3 separate regions of the Homo sapiens genome follow, and regions 1 and 3 are each linked to region 2. The links come from fine-mapping of genetic effects on gene expression. A gene starts in region 2. Each other region holds a variant in brackets. All regions are shown on one strand. Distances are between the middles of the regions.

What was found. PIP is the estimated chance that this variant, and not a neighbour inherited with it, causes the effect. A credible set is the group of variants that fine-mapping cannot tell apart.
Region 1: its variant is the best candidate, but not a certain one, in a credible set for the expression of ZNF774 in tibial artery (GTEx, PIP 0.72).
Region 3: its variant is the best candidate, but not a certain one, in a credible set for the expression of ZNF774 in tibial nerve (GTEx, PIP 0.53).

Annotation. Positions count from the first base shown.
Region 1 is chr15:90,295,421-90,303,604 of GRCh38, forward strand. It overlaps the pseudogene GOLGA2P8. Among named protein-coding and RNA genes, the nearest start is that of NGRN, 34 kb to the left of the region's middle. RefSeq lists a silencer at 4,701-4,893 and enhancers at 5,238-5,998, 8,157-8,184. The variant C/T (reference allele first, on the strand shown) is at 4,727.
Region 2 is chr15:90,347,416-90,355,599 of GRCh38, forward strand. ZNF774 (zinc finger protein 774) reads left to right here and starts at 4,869. Exons shown (of 4, transcript NM_001004309.3): 1 at 4,869-4,996; 2 at 7,227-7,349. The coding sequence starts at 7,246. It also overlaps the pseudogene GABARAPL3.
Region 3 is chr15:90,368,554-90,376,737 of GRCh38, forward strand. No RefSeq gene overlaps it. Among named protein-coding and RNA genes, the nearest start is that of IQGAP1, 16 kb to the right of the region's middle. The variant C/T (reference allele first, on the strand shown) is at 4,384.

The sequences.
Region 1 (8,184 bases), 52 kb before region 2:
ACTCTAGGAGCCCCAGCCCCCCAAGAGCTTGTGTGTGCTGACAAGCAGGATGGCCAGTAGAACCTTCAGGCAGGGTGAGCAGGCAGGAGCAGGGGAGGCTCGCATGGCGCTCCGATCCCCTCCTCCCTCTCTCCGAAGATCTTTGTGAGGTGAGCCTCACTGACAGCGTGGAGCCCGCACCAGGAGAGGCCAGGGAGGGTTCTCCCCACGACAACCCCACTGCACAGCAGATCATGCAGCTGCTTCCTGTAACGCAGGACTCCCCAGGAGCACCCAGGCTTGGGCAGCAATCTCTGCATGCCTTTCTTTTCGAGCTGCCGAGAACAGGGAGATAAACACCACCATCATCTAAGAGCTGGTCAAGAAATTAAAAAAAAAAAAAAGTTAAGGGGTTAATCTCCTACACAATTCATTTACTTCATTTGAATGTTAGAGCCACTCATGTTTATTTGTGTTTCTAATTTATAGTTTAAATTTTATTTGTAAAAAGTTAAAGGAGAGTGGGTCTTTTCCTCATGTTCACTCTGGCATCCTTTAGCATGTTTCTTTTTTAATTTGATAATTGTAGGTCATTAGCATGCATATCAAGTTTGCCCTTATGTGGTGGGTGTTCAAACACACAAAGACCCACTATTTGCACAAAACTATTCTTCCTGGTTTGGGATAGGCTGCCATGCTTTTTTAATGTTATTGCAGCATGTATATTTATTATGGAATTCAGATAAAATTTGCTTATGTTCTGCTATTATGTTTGATCGAATCCTAATCACAGTGAGCTCTTCATCAGCTCAATATGTGGTTTGCCCTGAAGTGCGCGGTCTATTACTTTGTAATATGCCACTGTGAGTACTGACATTTACAGTTGCTTAAAGGCGGAGCACTGGAAACAGCCTTTCCCCCTTTTTCTGTGTATTGGGGATGGGAGTAATAACATTTTGGGGAGCTTTTTAAATCTCCCAGAAGAGGAAAGTGGCCTGCTCTGGCAGGTATGTGCAGGATAGAGTGTGTTTTATTTGTTTTGGTGCCAAGAATGAGCACTGTACTATGGTAGTTCCCTTAGGATTTGTATGTGTTCTGGGCTTATGAAGATATTGCATCATGAGCTGTGGCAGTTGTACTCTTTTTTGATGACCTAAAAAGGGCTTATTTCTGAGGAATGAAAGGCTCCCATCGTTGATTGTGGATGTGGAAAACCTTTCCTAGCTTAGAGCATTTATATCTATAACACATTTTAAAGTCAGAGTTCATGGTCCCTGTTTTAATCACGTGACTACATGTCCCAGTACACAAAAGGGCACTGGTTGGCATTCTTCTTAATGTATTTAGTAAAGATCATAAGAAATCCTTTAAGAGTTTAGATGTCCCTGAAACAGGCATACAGGCTCTAGTCAGGAATGAATTCGAGTGAAGGAAAGCTATGTGACACCTGGCATTCCTCTCTGTTCACGGAGCTTCTCTGAGGCTAGAAGATTAATTTTACCATCTAGACCTCTCTGGCTCATACCTATTCTTCAACCACATTGGCTACTTTGACATAGGAAATTACTTCTTTTCCTTGAATGGAGAACACTTTAAAAATAATATTATAAATGAATATATGTGAGAGTACTTGGTTGAAAGAAAAAGGAGTTTTAGTAGACAGTATTATTCTATATTTGAAAATCAAGGAGAAGTTTATGCGACTTAAAATGTTTACAAACTGCAGTGCAATCTACTGTTTGTGAATGTCAAAGTCTTATCAGGAAAAGTGTCTGTACAATCACAGAGTCCTACTTCCTCCGAAAGTTCTTTACGAAGAGTGAAATATGTTTTTGTACCTTTCAGTTTCAGTTAGAGGCATATTTTGTGCAATATTTATGTGAATGCGCCTATATATTATGAATGAATTATTTCAGTCATATGTTGCCTAAATCATAACTTGATGATGCTTGGGAAAGAATCAACAGTTAAAACCTCATGAAGTTCTAATGTCTGTATTCCAAAATACATCACATTATTAGGATGTAGGGAGAGATGTATGTGCGCTCCCTGGTGTGGGGATTTGTAGTTACTAGACCGTCTCCATTTGGCATCCTCATGATACTTTTATAAATATGACATTAATAGGAAAGCAGTATTATTTTTCAGACAAAATAACTGATTTGCCTGGATTCACGGAAAAAAATGCAAATATTGGGTCCTTGTGACTTCAACTGACTCTTCCAAATTGTATGAATTTATTAATGTATTAGATAAACCTAGTTTCAGAATGATAAACTGTTAGACCAAATAATGTGGCTAATTAACAGTGGTACGATTTCTAGCCCGAGGGTTTAAAATGGACTTAAGGTCCTGTTGTTGCCTTTTATTTTCTGAACTTGCTGCTTTTGCATTCTTTGAGTTCAGTTTAAAGACAGTTACTTTAAGTCCATTTTAAACCCTCGGGCTAGAAATCGTACCACTGTCAATTAGCCACATTATTTGGTCTAACAGTTTTTCTTTATCATTCTGAAACTGGGTTTATCTGATACATTGATAAATTATTTCAAAGGTATTTTAATAGTTCAAATCACTTCACTTTTACATTGATAAATGTAAATGACTAGGAATGACCTTCGGATAGCGTTTAGCATCTGTAATCAATCTGACAATAATGTGTTCATCAGGTACCTCTGGATTAACTCACATACCGGCATACTTAAGCTGAATGTCTGTCTGGAAATAAATTTACTATATTAACTGAGATACTACTTTTTGTGTAGGTATTTTTGTCATATATTTAAGAAAAAGCTAACAAGGATGGAAATCATATTATAATAACTTAAGTCTTTCTTCAAAGGGCATGCAGTCTTTTGCAATACCTCATTCAGCCAGATATTTGTTCTCTTTCTCATTCAGTATAAGACAGCTTTCAATTTGCTTAGCAGGCAACATTAGAAGGTTAGAGTTCATGGAAACATAGAATTTTAAAATGTGAGTTCAACCGAATAAATTTGAATTTCTGTAGGAGGTAAAGAATCAAAATACTTGTTTATTTAAAGGTTGCAGTATATGATAATCATTTTGAAGTATTTGATTAATACTAATAGGTTTTCCAGAACTGAAAAACTAATGTTAAAACCAAAGCTGATTTCTAGAAAATTTGAAAATGTAAATCAGCCTTATCCAGAATATAGTTTCTCTAAAACTTTCTTAGTCATTTTACAATAGTATAACTATTAAAAAATGTAACTGCTATTTTAATGTTTTGAAATAAATTAAAACATTTTAAAATATGAATACTGTAGCTTAAAAGAAAGAAACTAGGGGAAGGAAAAGTAAAGAAAGAAATGCCAATTCCAGTCCAAAACTTTATTTGCCAAGTTTTCTTATAATGACTTACCAATTTAGGAATTCTTGTAAACAGAATCTATAATGGAAATACTGAAAGACTTTTGCCTAAAGTGGCATTATTGAATACTGCTGTGATGCTACTGTATGTAATAAATTATTGTTGCAAAGTGCTGTTTTTGCCTTAAATTTTTATTTTGTGTGTCTTGAAAACTATAGTATTAAAGGTATTGAGATTGTGCAAATGCCAGGCATGCTTGGCATGAAATAGTGTTTTTATTTTTACAAAATTGTAATATGACTATGCAAGCATTTAACTAATTAATTAATTTATTTATTTTGAGATGGAATTTCACTCTGTTGCCCAGGCCAGAGTGCAGTGGCACGATCTCGGCTCACTGCAACCTCCACCTCCTGGTTTCAAGCAGTTCTCCTGCCTCAGCCTCCCGAGTAGCTGGGACTACAGGTGCACGCCACCATGCCCAGCTAATTTTTGTATTTTTAGTAGAGATGGGGGTTTCACTATGTTGGCCAGGCTGGTCTCAAACTCCTGACCTCGTGATCTGCCCACCTCAGCCTCCCAAAGTGCTGGGATTACAGGCGTGAGCCACCGCGCCCGGCTGCAAGTGTTTACCAAAAGAACACATACTGAAAAAATAGTTATGGGATTTTAAAAAGTTAGGAGATTAAAAAAAGTTATGAGATTTAAAAAGTTATGAGATTAAAAAGTTATGGGATAAAGTTACGTTATGGGATAAAAAAGTTACGGGATAAAAAATGTTATGGTCAGTGGCTCACTGGGCTTACAGGTGTGAGCTACCGCCCTGGGCCTAGTTCCCTGCTTTTGGATGACCGCGATCTTCATCTCATCTTCACCTGTCTCCCCCATCAGACACTTCTCCAGGCTTTGCTGAAAGTGGCCTGCTTTTATTTATTTAATATTTATCACATAACTTTTTTTCGTAAAACTTTTTTTGGAATATTTTTCCATAACTTTTTCCATAACTTTTTTCCCACAACTTATTTCCAAAACTTTTTTATTTTTATTTTTTTGAGACGGAGTTTTGTTCTTGTTGCCCAGGCCGGAGTGCAATGGCACAATCTCAGCTCACCGGAACCTCCACCTCCCAGGTTCAAGAGATTCTCCTGCCTCAGCCTCCTAAGTAGCTGGGATTACAGGCATTCACCACCACGCCTGGCTAATTTTGTATTTTTAGTAGAGATGGGTTTCTCCATGTTGGTCAGGCTGGTCTCAAACTCCCTATCTCAGGTGATCCACCCACTTTGGGATCCCAGTACTTTGGGAGGCTGAGGCGGGCAGATCACCTGAGGTCAGGAGTTCAAGACCAGCCTGGCCAACATGGTGAAACCCTGTCTCTACTAAAAATACAAAAAATTAGCCAGGTGTGGTGGCGGG[C/T]GCCTGTAATCCCAGCTATTCGGGAGGCTGAGGCAGGAGAATTGCTTGAACCCGAAAGGCAGAGGTTGCAGTGAGCCCAGATGGCACCACTGTACTCCAGCCTGGGCAACAGAGCAAGACTCCATCTCAAAAAAAAAAAAAAAAAAAAAGTTACAGAAAAAACGTGATTAAAAAAAGTCATGGGATAAAAATAAAAACAAAAGCAGGCCCCTGTCAGCAAAGCCTGGAGAAGTGGGGCCAGAGGCTCCACCCCCACCATGTCCCTGCCACCCCTTCCCAGTCACCCCTTTACCATTAGAGTAGCAAGACAAGACCCCTGTCTAATAGGGAGAGACAAACAGACCCTTTGCCACCCTGGCCAGGGCTGAGTCCTTAAATTTCTGGATGATGATGATTGTTATTTAAGAGGCAGAGGCTGATGGGAGTTGGTTTGTTCGGAGGAGGCCTCATGGCCTCCTTACTTTCACCAAAGCAATTTTTCCCTCAGGCTCCCGTCTTCTTAGTCAGAGAGGCAGCTGAGGCGGGACAGTGGGGCTAACTGTAGACCAGGCAAGGGCATGAGCTGCTGAGGGTGGCCCCCCTTCCCCCATGTACACATTGTGTCTGTGTAACGTTTTATATATTCTGGGGGGTAGGGCCGCCCCTGTATAGTACCTAGTGGAGATTGGAGCTGGCACATGGCGGGGAGGTTCTAATAATTATTTGCAGCTGGGGAATTTATTTGATAGCATAGGACAGAGGAAGGAGGCGGGGATGGGGTCGTGACTTCCTGGCGATGCAACTCCTGTTTATTTTGCTTTTTATTTTGGAATAAATGGATTTAGCCATACTGCTAGCCTGGTGTGTTCCTGCTTCCCCCACTGGGTCCTGGAGTTTGTGCCACTGAACGAGGAGCCCCAGAGTGTCCGAGCATGTCCAGCTGGTCTGTTGGGGACCTTCCAGACCTGTTACCTGTATGCTGCCTGGTGACGCGTGGGGGAGTCCACAGGGACTGCCATGGCGCCTACGGGGCACAGTCCGGCCCTGACGGCCAACAGGCTCAGAAGCCTGATCTAGCGGTGGCCGGGAAGGCAGGATGCCAGCACCCACGGGCACTGACTTCCATGCACCCCAGGCATCTTCCTTTCCGCCCCACTGCCTCCCTCGCCTGTCTGCACCTGGTGGCCTGTTCGACATGTCTGTCCCTCCAGAGTGCCGGCTGCCCCTCAGGCTCCTTCCGGGCTGAGTTCATGGCCCTGCCCCCTAGTGGCCAGAGCAGGCTTCACAGGATGAGAGCCAGCTAAGCTCCAGGGGCTTTCCAGGAAAAGTGTTCCTTGGAAAGGATGTGGCCTTTTCACCGCTCCCAGTACCCTAGTAATGGCTTGGCCTTACCCCTCCCCTGAGCTCCAAAGACAACACAGAGAGCAGAGGACACATTCCGCGTCATCCAGAAATGGGTTTGCTTGTCAGCCAAGGGAGAGCAGGACTGGTAGAGACTGTCAGGCCACACGGCACCCCCCATTCTTGGCAGGGGGTGGGAGGGATGGTGGGGCTGGCTGTCCACAGGCCGGGCATGACAGGGAGGCCCACTGGAGGTGGCGCACTTTGGAGGGGGGATGTTGGGGAACAGATATGGGTCTCAGTAAAGAAATCTGCTCTTTTACAATTCCTGCACCAATTTGCCATACTTGGAGATGACACATAGCAGCTTGTTTTTTACTTTTTCAAGAAAGGATATCATGGAAAGAAATCGAGCTGCCTTTCTATGAATAGAACTCAGTTGCCTTCCAGCCATAGGCTGCATGCTTCAAAATGTTCTTCAGAAATAAGAAATGGGTTGAGCTGCACCATCCACAGCCTTACCCTGAGCGTTCCCACCATGACCTCTAGCACATACGAAGTGCTTTGGTTAATTATGAAACCAGTGAAAATGAGATGAAAAGTCCTATTCTCATGCAGACCCGTTGGGTTATGCAGAGACAAGGTCGCAGGGACACAGCCCTAACCACAGTCTGCCCTCTGGAAAACACGTGTCTGTTCACATGGAAATGACACAAGTCTAGTTCTCGTCCAAAAGTCATGCAGCAAAACAAAAATGTCTGCAAAACTGGCAAGAGTTTTTACCATGACTTTAATTTTGAGGGTGCTCTTTAGCAGAGGCTGTTGATGAAGGAAGAATTCTATCAACCAGGACCACTGAGCAGGAATGAATCTATAGCTCCCTTTTTTAAGGCCAGAAAGGACCTTAAGTTCCTTTTGTTTCCGGAGGAGGGACCTGAAGCCTAGAGATGACAAAAGATTTGGCTTCTTTAAAGGATCCATCCAGCCCCCTCCATGAAAAGGAAATGAGCCAGTGTTGGTTTCAGTATTCTAAACTTTTGGAAAATGGTAAAACTGAAGGACATTGAACAAAATTACTAGGGTTTTTTCTATCTTGTTCAGTGAGTGTCAACATACTACATGTTTTTCATAATGGTTAGTTTTTATGATAAAAATACATTCTCATTGTATAAAATTTGGGAAATTCCAAAACCTATGGAGAAGAAGATTTATCCATAACCCCACAATTTATTCATTTGCTTATTCCAGCAACAAATAAAAGTGCATGCCTTACTAAGAGCAGGGCATGTTCCAAGACTGACTATCCAGAAATGATAGCCTTGAATTGATTCCCTTCCAACCCTTTTCTCAATACACTACTACTACTAATTTTAAAATCAGGTTATTTCGTTTTGGAATCTCCTTTTCACTTAATATATCACAAACCTTTTCCCAGTTTATCAAATAATATTCCAAGCTATGATTTTAAAGCTGCCTCACCTCAGCTCACATCATATCACATCACATCACATCAGTTTACATTATTAAACCATTCTACTTGGGACATAAGAGATGATCAATTTTTCAACATTATAAATAATGTTGCATGTAATATTCTTTGGTCACATACCTGATTATCTTTGGAAAGCTTCCCTAGGATTCAGATTGTTAGATCAAAAGCCTTAAATATTTTTCAGGTTCTAGATACACAATGCTCGATTGCTTTCCTTTTTTTTTTTTTTTTTTTTTTTTGGGGAGACAGAGTCTTGCTCTGTCGCCCAGGCTGGTGTGTAGTGGTGTGATTTCGGCTCACTGCAAGCTCCGCCTCCCCGGTTCATGCCATTCTCCTGCCTCAGCCTCCCGAGTAGCTGGGACTACAGGTGCCCGCCACCACGCCCGGCTAATTTTTTGTATTTTTAGTAGAGACGGGGTTTCACTGTGTTAGCCAGGATGGTCTCGATCTCCTGACCTCGTGATCCACCCGCCTCGGCCTCCCAAAGTGCTGGGATTACAGGCGTGAGCCACCATGCCCGGCCCAATTGCTTTCTTGAAAGAGTGTAATAGTTTTACTTCCACCAGCTACAAGAGTGTGTTTCAGTCATACAGCAAGGCCTGCCTCTCGAAACAACACCTATGGGTTAAAAAAAAAAAAAAGTCAT
Region 2 (8,184 bases):
GCTCCAAGTTGGGTCACAGTGGTTGGGTCAAAGTGGCTGGGGCAAAGCTACAAATTAACAACATCTCAGCAAAGCAATTGTTTAAAGTACAGGTCTTTTTCAAAATGGAGTCTCTTATGTCTTTCCTTTCTACATAGACACAGTAACAGTCTGATCTCTCTTTTCCCTTCACTTGGCCTGACAGCATTGACTTCATTACACAAGAACTTGCAGCTGACAGAACTGACACACAGATTTCCCCCAAGAGGAAGAACCCTTTTCATTTGCAGAGATGAATTGAAATGTCATGTCTGAGTGCAATTCCTGCTCCCCACTCCCACCCCACAAAATCCTATAAGTGATAATAAATCAATAAAATCCCCATGATTTACTAAAAGTCATCCCTGCAAACCTTTCTAACTAGCAGCTGCAGTGGATAACCAAGAAGGGAAGCAGCTGGCCATCACATAGCATTCCTGTGAGTGTGAGAATGAAGGGACAGCAGCATGGGAGCGAGAATCCTGAATGAGTGAGAGGTATAGATAATCTACCTCACTTCATACCTGCCCCTTCCCTACATAAGACATCTCTGTCCTGATACATGGAAAATACTAGAGGAGATGGTAGAAGTGGTTTTAGTCTGCAATTGGAAATGCCTGAAGCTTATTAAATTCCAAGGTAGGGGTGAGATGAGGAGCACCAGAGAGAAAGAGCAGGTTAGACAGAGATGCTCAACTCACTCTGTCAATTCCAGTTTAATGCTATTTAACAACAAAATTATCTTCTTAATCATAACCACCCTCATGCCTAACCCCTATTTTCCAAAGATAAGAGATCCCTGTCTAAATTTCTGGGTTGGTGTCTACTGCCGCCCCTGGGGTGGTACTGTGATGTTTGTGAGTGAGATTGCAACTGGGATGGGAGAAAAGAAGTGTGGGATACGGAAGATCGGGGGCCACGATGCATCAATTACAGTGGGTCTCTTTTCGTCCCCAGGTATGGCCCACTACCACAAGTCCCCTTTCCCTACCTGTCTTGTGCAACTGTCAAAAACAGAATCTCTGCCCAAAGAGAAGGGAGCACAGGGAGTTGCTGCTGGACTGCCATCATCTCTGACCCCAACTTGTCCACCTCCTGACCGACCTTTCTATGAAACTGCACAAAAATTAAATCTCAGGAATGCCATAAAATTACATCATCCCCATTCCTCTATCAAAGCCAATCCAACAGCTCTGTCCTGACATGCTTTCTCCCTGGGCCAAGGAAGCAACAAAAAATATCAGTTGAGCATGTGAAAATGCGTTGACGGTGTGTGCGGTGTAAAGTTTCTATATGTCTTCACCTTCTGTCTCCTCACGGTGGGAGCCGCCCTCTCTTTCCCCAAGTCACACACACACCCCTCCCCTACCCCTAAGTCCAGGTGCTTCCATCTGCTGGGCTTCCAACCACTCATTTCCCATAGACACTCTCATTACTGTAGGCCACATACAGAAAATCATCTTCCTCATGACTGTCCTCATATAGTTGGCCCATGGTAGCACTAGTGGGAGGGATAGTGTTGTTGACAAAGAAGAATAAGGCGTCCTCAGGTCTCAGGTGGATTCTCTTCCGGATTAAAAGGTAGAACTGGCCATCGGTAAGGTCGGAGGGCACTAGGTACTTCCTCCTGTCCAGATCAGGCACCCTTGCTTTTGGAGCCTTCTCTACAATCAAGGGGACCCTGTCCGGATATTTCTTCCGGATCTTTTCTCCTTCCTTTTTCCGATACTCAAAGGGATGGACCTCCTTGTACTGGAACTTCATGGTGAATCACAGGGCTTCCGTGATCCCCGCGCAGGGCCTGCCTCCTTCGCCGCTGACCGCTGGCCACGTCCCGCTCCCTCCGCCGACGTGTGCTTAGAATAGCTGCAGAAATGTCCGCTTCCGGGTCAACAGCACTGGTCCAAGTGTGCGGGAGGGCAGAAGGTGGGGTGGGAGGGGGACCTCGGGTGCGCCTGCCTGGAGGTAGAGGAGAGCCAGGTGGAGAAATACCGGCGGCTTTTCCAAACAGCTGGGAGCACAAAAACCAAATATTTGGTTTTTTAAACCAATAAATTTTGGGGTAATTTGTTACACAGCAATAGATAATGATAGACTCTCTCTTTAAAAAAATCAGTTCTGGCAGGGTGCGATGGCTCACGCCTGTAGTTCCAGCACTATGGGAGGCCAAGGCGGGTGGATCACCTGAGGTCAGGAGTTCGAGACCAGCCTGGCCAACATGGTGACACCCCCGTCTCTACTAAAGATACAAAAAATTAGCCGGGCGTGGTGGTGCACGCCTGTAATCCTAGCTACTTGGGAGGCTGAGGCAGGAGAATCGCTTGAAGCCAGGAGGCAGAGGTTGCAGTGAGCTGTGATGGTGCCATTGCACTCCAGCCTGGGCGACAGGGCAAGACTCTGTCTCAAAATAAATAAATAAATAAATAAATAAATAAATTCAGTTATAGCAAGTGCTGAAGTCTTTCTGTCTTTTCATGCTCCTTGAAGTCCTTTCACAGTTTTTCCTGGCTCTTCTACGCCTCCTCTCGGCCACGCCCTTTAGCACCCAACCCCTCAACAGGTAATGATCCTCTCTTCACGTGGCCATTGCGGGTACATGATTGGTTTCCTGTACTGACTGCTCTTCTCGTGAGACCAAGCTTCCTTTCCCCTACTCCCCACACACCTGATCATTGTGAACAAACCGCCGAGAGAACAAGGTAAGGCAGAAGGAACAGAAGCTGCAGAGAGCGGCAGGGGATAGCCACCAGCCAGATTCTGTGACTCTTCATTCATCTCCCCACTCCAGTCCCAGATTGAAGAATAATCTTCATGATCTCCTTAATGGCAAAATGCTAGAAAGACTTACCGAGGGGTCTGAAGATGCCTTCGGTTCTCCAGGTCCTGAACTCTGTTCCAGTTACAGGAGGACTGGCAATCCCTAGGTTTCCTGGGTGTTACTTTGTTACTGACCTCCTCTGAGATTTCCATTTTCCTCAATTTCGTCTAACTAAATCTAACTACGTCTAACTACCTCTGCTAACCAGACATTTGTTCATAGTCGACAGAGTTTCCGAAAATGCAATGTAGTTACCTTGCAGATGACTATAATTGTGTAGCAAAATAACTAAGATGCCACTGGCTATATGGAAAAAAAAATTACTTAGGATTTTGATACCTTTTATGGTTTATTTCCCCTTTTGGCCTGTGAACTTCATGAAGGTAATGGTTATGTATGATTCCCGAGTAATCACAGTTCCCAGAACGATCTTTTTTTTTTTTCTTTCTTTTTTTCTTTTTTGAGACGGAGTCTTGCTCTGTCGCTCAGGATGGAGTCCAGTGGCGCGATCTCGGCTCACTGCAAGCTCCACCTCCCGGGTTCACATCATTCTCCTGCCTCAGCCTCCCGAGTAGCTGGGACTACAGGCGCCCGCCACCACGCCCGGCTAATTTTTTCTATATTTAGTAGAGACGGGGTTTCACCATGTTAGCCAGGATGGTCTCGATCTCCTGACCTCGTGATCCTCCCGCCTCGGCCTCCCAAAGTGCTGGGATTACAGGCGTGAGCCACCACGCCCTGCCCCCAGAACGATCTTGAGAACAGAATGTTCCCAATAAATATCCACTGGAAAATGCACCTTATTTTTGTTGAAGGAATGGTGGAATTAGCATCAAAGGGATCTTCAACATTAACTCGGGCCGGGCACGGTGGCTCACGCCTGTAATCCCAGCACTTTAGGAAGCCGAGGCGGGCGGATCACGAGGTCAGGAGATGGAGATCATCCTGGCTAACATGGTGAAACCCCGTCTCTACTAAAAATACAAAAAATTAGCCGGGTGTGGTGGCGGGCGCCTGTAGTCCCAGCTACTCGGGAGGCTAAGGCAGGAGAATGGTGTGAACCTGGGAGGCAGAACTCGCAGTGAGCCGAGATCGTGCCACTGCACTCTAGCCTGGGCGACAGAGCGAGACTCCGTCTAAAAAAAAAAAAAAAAAAAAACTCTATGGCTGGTAATTCTAAGCGTTTTATAATACATCACAAAATGTTCTTTTATTTTTCTAAATTGCACTGAATCAACAAACGGAGTAGACAGGCACATTTTCTTCACTTTAAGGAAAGACTTTGTTGTTTTTTAGCTAGGGGCCGACCCAAAGTGATCACTGGCTCTCACATGAGACCCAGGAGCCTCCCCAGTTTGAAGCCCGATATCACATTTCCCAGAATACTTGATGCCCTCGCCCGCCTCCTCTGGCTATCAACCAGACGGAAAGGGGATGTGCCTGGGAGTTTGATGCCAAGGGAAGGATGCGGAATGTCTGTTTTCTACTAAGGGCTTCTGCTGGGCCTTTCCAATGTCCAGTTTGAGTTGGTCTGGGACCTGGCCTCCGCAAACACCCTGCAGGCTCCGGCCGCCGGGGATGAGGTGGAAGACTGGGCAGAAGAGAGGCCGCAAAGGCCCGAGGGCTGAGCTGCTCTGCGCTGGGGAGGGGCGAAGTGCCAGAGCGCGGGAGACCTCATGGTGGGCACCAGGCTGCTCCGCGGTAGGTGGGTGAGGCCAGGAGATTCACATCTGCAGATGCCACAGTGAGGATACAGCATTTAGATCCCTCGGCTCCAAACAGGCGGTTCCGGGGGACCGGTAGCTGGGGAATTGGGTTTAGCACTTTCCAACGCTTGGAACTGGACATCCACGGCTCCGAGTCCTTTGAGGTCTTGCTCGGGACTACGTTTCCCAGAAGGCTAGGCGATAATTGACAGCTCTATCAGCCTATGGACAGAGAAAAATTCTAGCCATGGAAACTGAAAAGCCAATAGCAAGAGGATGGGGGCGGTACTTTCCGGCCGCTGGCTGTCGAAGCCGGAGTCCCACCTGTGTCCCCACAGCCCTGTCACGAATCCCGGTCGGGTTCTGGGAGGCACAGCCTCGGGGTTGCGGGCCGGGTGCGGCTCGGCGGTGGAGGACTCACTTCCTGCTCCATCCCCGGCTGGGCCCTGGGGCGGTGAGTGATTCAAGGAGGGAGACCGCGGCGGCAGCGGCGCGCTGCTGAGGGGCGTGGAGGGGGCTTGCCCGCCACCCAGACGTTTTCTCAGCGGGGTTCCCGCGCTGGCCTTTGGGAGCCCCCGGGTCTTGCTGGGCTGTGGGAGAGGTAGCTGTGGTCTCTATACCGTCGGCGGGATAAGTCATTCTCTTAATCAGTTTTCTTGCTTCTCGATGGTGGTCCCAGGGTTTCAGCTGATCTGTGACCCTCTGACCGCCGCACCCCGGTTAGGGCGCGAGCACCGAGAAGAAGAACGGGGTTCGGCCCCACGCGTGCAGTCATGTTCCTATTAATAAACCCGGTGAACGCACTGGAGCTTCTCACAGTGGCACTTAGTCACAGCCCCTCAGCGCTGTGGGGCCTTTGAGGTCACCTGTGCATGGGGAAAGGGACGGGCTGGGAAACAGGGTTTCTATAACCGTGGCTAAGACGTCTCCCCTCCTCAGTGGCGCTGTCTCCAGCAAGTGGGCCCTGCAGCTGTGTTTTGTAATGAATGTAGAAATAAAAATTATACTCAAAACTCTTTTTTTTTTTTAGACGGAATTTCGCTCTTGTTGCCCAGGCTGGAATGCAATGGCGCTATCTCCTTTCACTGCAGTCTCCACCTCCCGGGTTCAGGCGATTCTCCTGCCTCAGCCTCCCAAGTAGTTGGGATTACAGGCGTGTGCCACCACACCCGGCTAATTTTGTATTCTTAGTAGAGACAGGGTTTCACCATGTTGGCCAGGCTGATCTCGAACTCCTGACCCCAGGTGATCCGCCCGTCTCGTCTTCCCAAAGTGCTGGGATTACAGTCATGAGCCACAGCACCTGGCCAATACTGAAAACTCTTATTACAATTTTTACTTTCTAATTACATTATTGTTGTTTGTTAAAGTTTTAAACCAGAGAGATGGTTTTTAGATCCTTAAAAACTCAATACTTTATAAATGACCAATAATAATGTCTGTAAATACAAAAATATTTCCCCCAAAAGTGTGTGTGTGTGTGTGTGTGTGTGTGTGTGTGTGTGTGTGTTCCAGTAGTAAATAGGTGATTTGTAGTGGGACAAAAGATGTGAAAGAGTAAAACTTCTTCACCACAGTCTGGTCCTTCCTCCCTTGAAATGCAATATTCTTTGTAGTGGGTGGTCATGCTGGCTGCATTTTTTTTTTTTTTAAGGGAGAGACAGGGGCTCACTCTGTTGCTAGGCTGGGGTGCAGTGGCGCCATCATAGCTCACTGCAGCCTGGAACTCCTGGGCTGAAGTGATCCTCCCACTTCAGCCTCCTGAGTAGCTGGGACCACAAGTGCATGCCACCATGCCTGGCTGATTTTTAAAAGTTCTTTGTAGAGAAAGAGGTCTCAATATGTTGCTGAGGCTGGTTTATTGGAAACTTTTTAAGGGAAAAAACATTATCTTAATTTCTATGTGACTCCTATGCCTGGCAACATATTAATTGTTGAATAAATGACTGATCCATCCAGTAATTCACTCTTGACTATCCTCCAAAAAGTAATGTTTTTCATGATATTGCTGTCGATTTATTAATATATTAATGATTGGTTTCAGCCCCTAAGAGTTGTGTTTTGTGCTTATTCCCACTTTCACTTATTTTTACAACCTATCCATGTCTTCTTTTTTTTAAAAAAAAAATGTCTTTTTCAGTCTTATTTCTGACTCCATTAAGATCTTGAAATAGAATGGTATCCAACACAGTTCCCTTTGGGGTTCTGTATAATCTGTCCCTTGAGGTTGACACCAAATCTGCAAGCCAAGAAGTTAGCTGCTCCCATAACTAATATGAGTATAGTTAAGGCCACAATTTCCTTGCTTGCTGAGGAAAATGAAGTTGGGGAGAATCAAAAGCTTTCCAGAAATCAAATTACACCTGCCAACTCTCTCCTTTGTTTACCTTGTTCATCGTGGACAATTTGTTCCTCAAAAAGTCAATGTGTCTAAAAGACTGGGTTCTGTCGATGTGTTTGGGAGGCCTAGGCCTCTCTTAGTAATGGGAAAGTTGGCCAGGAGAAGACGTATGTAAAAACAGACTTAGAAAAGCACCCCTCTGTGGTTGACAGAATTTACCTCAGGACCATTCTGGTCAGGTGTGGGGGGTTGTTTGTGTACACTGGTGGCCATTTTTTGGCTTTCAGACAATGGTGAGAATATCTAGGGAGCTACTGATGCACATTGAGGTCTCTTGCTTTAGGAACTGATGACGCTTGATAATGTGGCTGGGGACTTCAGGGAAGAGTGGGTTACCTGGACACTGCTTAGAGAATCCTCTCCAGGAATGCCACCCAGCACAGTTAGAAGAATGGGCTCTCAAAGGGTAAGAATGCTACTCTCCTTTATTTCATTTATTTATCTTGTTTTTTTTGAGACGGGGTCTCGCTCTGTCATCCAGGCTGGAGTGCAGTGGCGCGATCTCGATTCACTGCAATCTGTGCCTCCTGGGCTCAAGCGATTCTCCCACCTCAACCTCCTGAGTAGCTGCGATCACAGGCATGTGCCACCATGCCTAGCTAATTTTTTGTGTTTTTAGTAGAGACAGGATTTTGCTATGTTGGCAAGGCTGGTCTCACTATGCTGTCCAGGCTGGTCTCAAACTCCTGAGCTCAAGCAATCCACTGGCCTCCGCCTTCCAAAGTGCTAGGATTATGGGCGCCACCATGCCTGACCACTGCTCTCCTTTAATTTGAGACTTAGATATTTGGAGAGGGCCCAGGTCTGAGGAGTTTCTGGTATGTTGGCATCTTAGAGCTCCAGACCTCTGTAAGATTAATTGTTGCCTCCTTGGGAGAAAAACAATTACTTCCTTATGCATTTTATGGTTTGCAAATGTCTTTGCTATTTATTGTCCTTTTAATATCTCATCATAACTTTTTGACTTATGTATTACTATCCCCCTTTTCCAGCCTGGGTTGGACTCTCACCTCTGCCACTTAACTTCTGAGACTTCTGAGGTCTTTGTGGAAAAGGAGGTAATTTTTTCTGTCACTTAAAAACAGGCTGGGGGCAGTGGCTCACGCCTGTAATCCCAGCACTTTGGTAGGCTGAGGTGGGCGGATCATAAGGTCAGGAGTTCGAGACCAGCCTGGCCAACATGATGAAACCCTGTCTCTACTAAAAATAAAAAAATTAGCTGGGTGTGATAGCGGGCGCCT
Region 3 (8,184 bases), 21 kb after region 2:
AAAGCAAGACATAGAAATATATATTTAGTAAGAGTAAAAATACAGTAAAGGTAAAAAAGAGGCAAAACTAAACAATATATTGCTTAAGCAATAAGGATACACAAACTAATGAAAATCAAAGGATTTACTAATACAAACTTCAGTATAGTAATTAATTGGAATGGGAGAGAAAGATGCAAAGTTTCTATTTCTTTTTTTGTTTTGTTTTGAGACAGTGTCTCATTCTGTTGCCAAGGCAGGAGTGCAGTGGCAGGATCTCAGATCACTGCAAGCTCAGCCTCCTGGGTTCAAGTGGTTCTTCTGCCTCAGCCTCCCAAGTAGCTGGGATTACAAGCATGCACCACCACACCCAGCTAATTTTTGTAATTTTAGTAGAGATGGAGTTTCACCATGTTGGCCAGGCTGGTCTCGAACTCCTGGTCTTAAGTAATCCGCCCACCTCTGCCATCAAAGTTTCTGTTTCTTAAGTTGGCTGCCGAGTACACAGGTTTTCTTTGTAAAATAATTATTTAAATTGTTAATATGCATTACTTATATGCTTTTCATTTACAATGTATTTCACAAGAAAAATAAAACAAAGCAAATAAGAAAACAGAACACTTCTCCAGAGATTGATCTTTTTCACTCAAATCTCATTGAGTTATACTGAGGGGGAAAAAGAGTAATCTGAGTGCCTGGGCCCTGAACAGACACACTAGATCAGTTCCTTCATTCCCACTCAAACACATGCACACACACGCACAAACACACATTTTCTTATATTTCCTTCAGCAAACCCCCCGCCCCACCAACCAACCCCAAAACACCCTCTGCTCCTTTATGTATATAAATTAGAGCAGATAAATGTCCAGAAGATTATAGGCCATCTTTCTATAAACAGCCAATCTTGGACCTGGTGTCTGAATGGGGGATGCCCTGCTGCATTAAAGATGCTCATGTGAACATTTTGTTGTTTCCCAGAAAAAAAGTTTCCACATTTTAGATTATTTTCACAGGGTGAGAACAATTTTACACCTCCCTTACTTGCTGCAGAATCTTTTTTTTTTTTTTTTTTTTTTTTTTGAGACAGGTCTTGCTCTATCACTCAAGCTGGAGTGCAGTGGCACGATCTCGGCTCACTGCAACCTCCGCCTCCCAGGTTCAAGCAATTCTTCTGCCTCAGCCTCTCGAGTAGCTGGGATTACAGGTGCGCACCACCATGCCCAGCTAATTTTTTGTATTTTTAGTAGAGATGGGGTTTCACCATGATGGCCAAGCTGGTTTCAAACTCCTGACCACAAGTGATCCGCCCACTTCGGCCTCCCAAAGGGCTAGGATTACAGGTGTGAGCCACCACGCCTGGCTGCTGTGGAATCATTTTTAAAGTGATTGTATCAATTTACAGTGTTCCGAACAGTAAATGGCTACTAGTCTCATCACACCCTCATCTTTAAAAAAGTTTTGCTAATTTAATAGACATGATTCTTACATATTGTCTTAATTTGCATTTCTTTGCTTACCAGTGAGGTTGAACATTTTTTTCTATGTTAGAATCTTTCTTGTATTTCTTCTGTTGTTTTCATTAGAGTAACTCAGAGCAGGATTGGGAATCTGAAAACATGAACATTTGATTTTGAGGAAGTCATTGTTTTCCTGTTGTCTTCCTTCCCCCTCTCTGCTTTATTATTTTTTACTTCAGGTTCATTTATAGAAATATCAGAAAATACAATTAAGCAAACAGAGTAAATTCCACTTCCCAGAGATAACCACTACCGTTTGTTGTATATCCTTTTAAGCTTTTTCTCTGCCAAAAATATTCACAAATATATCGCTTATTCTTTCTGAGCCTGTTTCCTCATCTATCAAATGGAATACTTGTTCTTCAAGTTGATAATTAACTGGTGGGAGCACATGAAAGTATTTTATAAAGTGCACAAATGCAAGTTGCTGCTCTTATGACAAAGAAAAAATGTATTTTATTCTGCCAAGCAGAATGATGACACTTTGTTTCCTGAACACAGCCTGCTCTCTCCAGTACAATTTCTTCTCTCTAGAATAGCTTCTTGCTTCAATTCCTCCTGCTGAACTACTATCTACTCTTTTTTTAAAAAAATCAATATTAAAATATACAAAAATTAGTGTAAAGAGCAACCACGTACCCACTATACAGCTTAGGAAAAGAGTCTGGCATTTCTCACTCCTATGCCTTTATATATACTTGCTTTATTTCCTGTCTCTCTATATATACATACATATATATTTAGTAAGAGCAAAAATACAGTAAAGATCAGGGAAGGTGCGGTGGCTCACGCCTGTAATCCCAGCACTTTGGGAGGCCGAGGCGGGCAGATCACGAGGTCAGGAGTTTGAGATCAGCTTGACCAACATGGTGAAACCATGTCTCTACTAAAAATACAAAAATTAGCCAGGCGTGGTGGCTCATGCGTGTAGTCCCAGCTATTCAGGAGGCTGAAGCAGAAAAATCCCCTGAACCTGGGAGGTGGAGGTTGCCGTGAGCCAAGATTGTGCCACTCACTCCAGCCTGGGCGACAGAGTGAGACTCCATCTCGGGGAAAAAAAAAAATACAGTAAAGGTAAAAAACAGGCAAAACTAAATATATTGCTTAAGCAATAATGATACTCATACAAACTAATGAAAATCAAAGGATTTACTAATACAAATTTATAGTAGTTAATTGGAAGCATATGTATTATATAAATATACATGTATTATACATATATGTATATATGTATATATATAGAAAAAAGCAAATATATGTATATATACATATATATCTATATATGTAAAATTTTTATTTATAAAATGTTTTTGAGCATGAAATGATATATCATTGTGGTGTTAATATGCGTCTTAGCTGGGCATAGTAGGTCACACCTGTAATCCCAACATTTTGGGAGGCTGAGGCAGGAGGATTTCTTGAGCTCAGGAGTTCAAGACCAGCCTGGACAGCATAGTGAGACCCCATCTCTAAAAAAAAAAATAAAAATTATCTGGCGTGGTGGCTGATGTCTGTAGTTCCAGCTACTCAGGAGGCTGAGGTGGGAGGATCACCTGAGCACTGGAGGTCAAGGCTGCAGTGAGCTATGATCATGCCACTGCACTCCAGCCTGGATGACAGAGCCAGATCCTGTTTCAAATAAATAAATTAAATTAAGTTAAAAAGTATCTCCCTGATTAGTGGGGAAGTTACCCAACTTTTTTTTTTTTTTTTTAGACAGAGTCTCAGTCTGTCTCCCAGGCTGGCATGCAGTGGCACGATCTTGTCTCACCGCAACCTCCACCTCCTGGGTTCAAGCAATTCTCCTGCCTCAGTCTCCCGAGTAGCTAGGATTACAGGCATGTGCCACCATACCCGGCTAATTTTTTGTATTTAGTCGAGATGGGGTTTCGCCATGTTGGGCAGACTGGTCTCGAACTCCCGACCTCAGGTGATCCTCCCACCTGGGCCTCCCAAAGTACTGGGATTACAGGCGTGTGCCACCGTGCCCAGCAGTTACACAACTTTTACAAGTTTATTGTTGTTCATGTTGCCTCTTCAGGGAATTTTGTTTATAAAGTACCTATTCTTCAAGGCCCCATTAAAACACCTCCCTCTCCATAAAGTATTTCCAGATCTCCTCTATCAAGCAGATAGGATTTCCTTTGGACTTCTATAATCCTTTCTTTCTACATCTTGGGTTTCACTCACTTCTTATTTCATCTTGCATTACAGTCACTTGTGTACTTGTCTAAAGGGCAGTGACTATGTTTAACTCAACTTTATGCCCTTGTTCATACTAGTACAAAAGTAAACATTTCATAAATCTTTGTTGAATCAAATCCTACTCCTCCCCTGCTTATAAAATCTTAAATCATTTCCTATTGTCTACAGACGAAAGTAGAATCTCGTTTAATGTAGAATTTAAGACCCTTCCACGGGCTCTAGCATCAACCTTCCTTTCTTGCTCTTCTCCTGGGAGGACCTTGCTTTCCGCCCCAGATACTAGATTCTTCATCCACAGTAAGGTCCCAGTCCACTAATGTTTGGCTTTTCTCTCTGTAGCTGGGATGGCAGGTTGGTCCCACCCATTTTAGTTGCCTATAAAATTCTTTTTTTTTTTTTTTTGAGATGGAGTCTTGCTCTGTTGCCCAGGCTGGTATGCAGTGGCATGATCTTGGCTCACTGCAACCTCCGCCTCCTGTATTCAGGCAATTCTCCTGCCTCAGCCTCCCGAGTAGCTGGGATTATAGGCAACTGCCACCATGCCCGGCTAATTTTTGTATTTTTAGAAGAGACGGGGTTTCACCATGTTGGCCAGGCTGGTCTCGAACTCCTGACCTCAGATGATCCGCCCTCCTCGGCCTCCCAAAGTGCTGGGATTACAGGCGTGAGCCACCGCGCC[C/T]GGTCTGAGCCACCGCGCCCGGTCTGAGCCACCACACCCGGTCTAATTTTTGTATTTTTAGTAGAGGTGGGGTTTCACCATTTTGGCCAGGCTGGTTTTGAACTCCTGACCTCGTGATCTGCCCGCCTCGGCCTCCCAAAGTGCTGGGATTACAGGCTTGAGCCACTGCGTCCAGCCCAAACTCTTTAAGAGAAAATCTCTTGGGATCTTGAAGCCAGAAGCTTGCTTTTATTACTGAGTTTGCCCTGAATCTGTCACTTATGTACTAAAAATACATAAATTTCCTTATCCAGGTGACTTGGGCTCAACTGAAGGAAACCTGAAGCATCTAAATGTTAGCACCTAAGCCTGAGTCTAGGTGCCAGCATAGCCTGTCTTCCCTCTCCAGAGTCAGAGGCATGTTACAAACAGAATATATGGACACACGTCGAACCCCACATTGTATCTCTCTAATTTATTCAATTTAATTCAGTAAACACTCATTACCTCTTATATCCAGGCCTAGTTGAGGGTGCTGGGGATACAGGTATAAACATGACAGTTCTCTTGAGGAGCACAGAGTGGTTGTGGGAAACAGACATACAGACACACAGTTTCTTTCTTTCTTTTTTCTTTTTTTTTTTTTTTTTGAGACAGAGTCTCACTCTGTCCTTCAGGCCGGAATGCAGTGAGGTGATCTCAGCTCACCACAACCTCCACCTCCTGGGTTCAAGCGATTCTCCTGCCTCTGACTCCCCAGTAGCTGGGATTACAGTAATGCGCCACCACACCCACCTAATTTTTGTATTTTTAGTAGAGACAGGCTTTTGCCATGTTGGCCAGGCTGGTCTCAAACTCCTGAACTCAGGTGATCCGCCTGCCTCGGCCTCCCAAAGTGCTGGGATTACAGGTGTGAGCCACCATGCCCGGCCCAGACACATAGTTTCAATACAAGAAGTATATGTCAGCCAGAGAAGGGCTATCTTGAGAGTCAAGGAAGGCTCCCTGGAGGAGGTATCACTTATGCCAGTTGGTACATGAATGAGTAAATGCAAACAAGCCATGATACTGAAATAAAGCTTTGTTTAATTAACCTTCACATGTAAATTCAGCCACAGAAGACATTCTGATACATGGGGGCATTGCCAGTGATTCCACGAAACTGGATAATGTCATTGATGCTTGTGGTTGAGAGAGCTTGTTTCTGTATTGTAAGGAAGGTGGTACAACCTGGCCTTTCTTTTAAAAAAAAAAAAAAATTCAAACTGGACATGTGTCAATGAACTGACTGGAGTCTTAGGGAGGAACATTGCTCCATAGCTATATGTCTCTCCCGTTTTTTCCTGTGTTAGTCTTTTTTTTTAATTTTTTTAAAATTTTTTTGAGACAGAGTCTTGCTCTGTTGCCCAGGCTGGAGTGCAGTGGTGTGATCTTGGCTCGCTGCAAGCTCCGCCTCCCGGGTTCAAGCAATTCTCCTGCCTCAGCTTCCCAAATAGCTGGGACTACAGATGCATGCCACCATGCCTGGCTAATTTTTGTATTTTTAGTAGAGACAGAATTTCACCATGTTGGCTACACTGGTTTGGACCTCCTGACCTGAGGGGTTCCACCTGCCTCGGCCTCTCAAAGTGCTGAGATTACAGGAGTGAGCCACCTTGTCTAGCTCTTTTTTTTTTTTTCTTTTGAGACAAGTTCTTGCTCTGTCTCCCAGGCTGGAACGCAGTGGTGCAATCACAGCTCCCTGCAGCCTCGACCTCCCCAGCTCAAGTGATCTTCCCACCTCAGCCTCCCCAGTAGCTGGGGCCACAGGCATGCACCACTACGCCCAGCTAATTTTTTTTATTTTTTGTAGAGATGGTGTCTCACCATGTTGCACAGGCTGGTATCCAACTGCTGGGCTCAAGCAATCTTCCTGCCATGGCCTCCCAAAGTGCTAGGATTACAGGCGTGAGCCACTGTGCCCACGTGTTAGTCTTTACATAACTGAATAGTGACTGAAGTCTTGCAGTTTCTACCTTGCCCTGCACTGGCATTATAAGTTGTAGTAGAAATGTCACTCATTGCTTGTAATCTCATGAGAGGCCTAGTTAGATTTTTCTGTACTCTACTTCCAGAGGAGCTTATAGGAAGGTGACTTTCCATAAAGGATGTGAGCTTTCTACCACCCAAATATCAGTCGTAAAGAAAATGAGGAGTGATAAAGAAAGAAGGTATTGAGAGGTGAAGCCAGCTGGGCTTCTAGGTTGGGTGGGGACTTGGAAAACTTTTCTGTCTAGCTAGAGGATTAAAAACGCACCAATCAGCACTCTTTGTCTAGCTAAAGTATTGTAAATGCACCAATCAGCACACTGTAAAAACGCACCAATCAGCACTCTGTGTCTAGCTAAAGGACTGTAAACGCACCAGTCAGCACTCTGTAAAATGGACTAATCAGCAGGATGTGGGTGGGGCCAAATAAGGCAATAAAAGCTGGCCAGCGAAGCCAGCAGCAGGCAACCCACTCGGGTGCCCTTCCATGCTGTGGAAGCTTTGTTCTTTCGCTCTTCACAGTAAATCTTGCTGCTGCTCACTCTGGGTCCGCACTACCTTCATGAGCTGTAACACTCAATGCGAGGGTCTGCGGCTGCATTCCTGAAGTCAGCAAGACCACAAACCCACCGGGAGGAACAAACAACTCCAGATGAGCCACCTTTAAGAGCTGTAACACTCACTGCGAAGGTGTGCGGCTTCACTCCTGAAGTCAGTGAGACCACGAACCCACTGGAAGGAAGAAACTCCGGACACATCTGAACATCTGAAGGAACAAACTCCGGACACACCATCTTTAAGAGCTGTAACGCTCACCGTGAAGGTCCGTGGTTTCATTCTTGAAGTCAGCGAGACCAAGCATCCACCAAAAGGAATAAATTCCAGACGCAGTATTTACAGCCCAGTGTCCACCCATTCCCCATGTAGCAACCCCTGGTACCTGAGGAAAAAGGTCACAGCCTCTGCCAATGGTGGGGCATCTTTCCGAAGAGGTTCCACTTGGACTTTTTGAAACATCATGTGGCTGTGCTGTTTGAGAAGCCTGGGGTGAAATTAACTATACAAGAATCAGGGCATGATCACACACGCACACACCTTTGCAATTTTTCTGGCTTTGTTTACACTGTTACTGCAACTTGTGCCCTTTCTCACCCTTTTCATAGGTCTTCCCTGCAAAGTCTTTTTTTTTTTTTTTTTTTGAGACGGAGTCTCGCTCTGTCGTTCAGGCTGGAGTGCAGTGGCGTGATCTCGGCTCACTGCAACCTCCGCCTCCTGGGTTCACGCCATTCTCCCGCCTCAGCCTCCCGAGTAGCTGGGACTACAGGCACCTGCTACCTGGCGCAGCTAATTTGTGTATTTTTAATAGAGACGGGTTTCACCGTGTTAACGAGGATGGTCTCCATCTCTTGACCTCATGATCTGCCCGCCTCAGCCTCCCAAAGTGTTAGGATTACAGGCCTGAGCCACCGCACCCGACCCATCAACTGTTCTCTTATCTGTGCTCCTAGATCTCTATCTTGATGTCTGAAAGCTTCTTGAGAGTGCTTTGTCAGGTCTATGTCCATCACATTCTTTGGTGGATGTGGCCTCACAAATCTTTCAACTCAGCCCTCTAGGTCCTCATGTGCATTAGTGGAGAATAGCGTTCACATATGTGGGCTTTGGGTCCAATGCAGTTTGAATACTGAGTATGTCACTAACTAGTTGTGTAATTTTTGGAACATTGTTAACCTTTCTGATTTCAGTTTCCTTATCCTTAAATTGAAAATTCTAGTAGTTCCTACCTCATAGGAT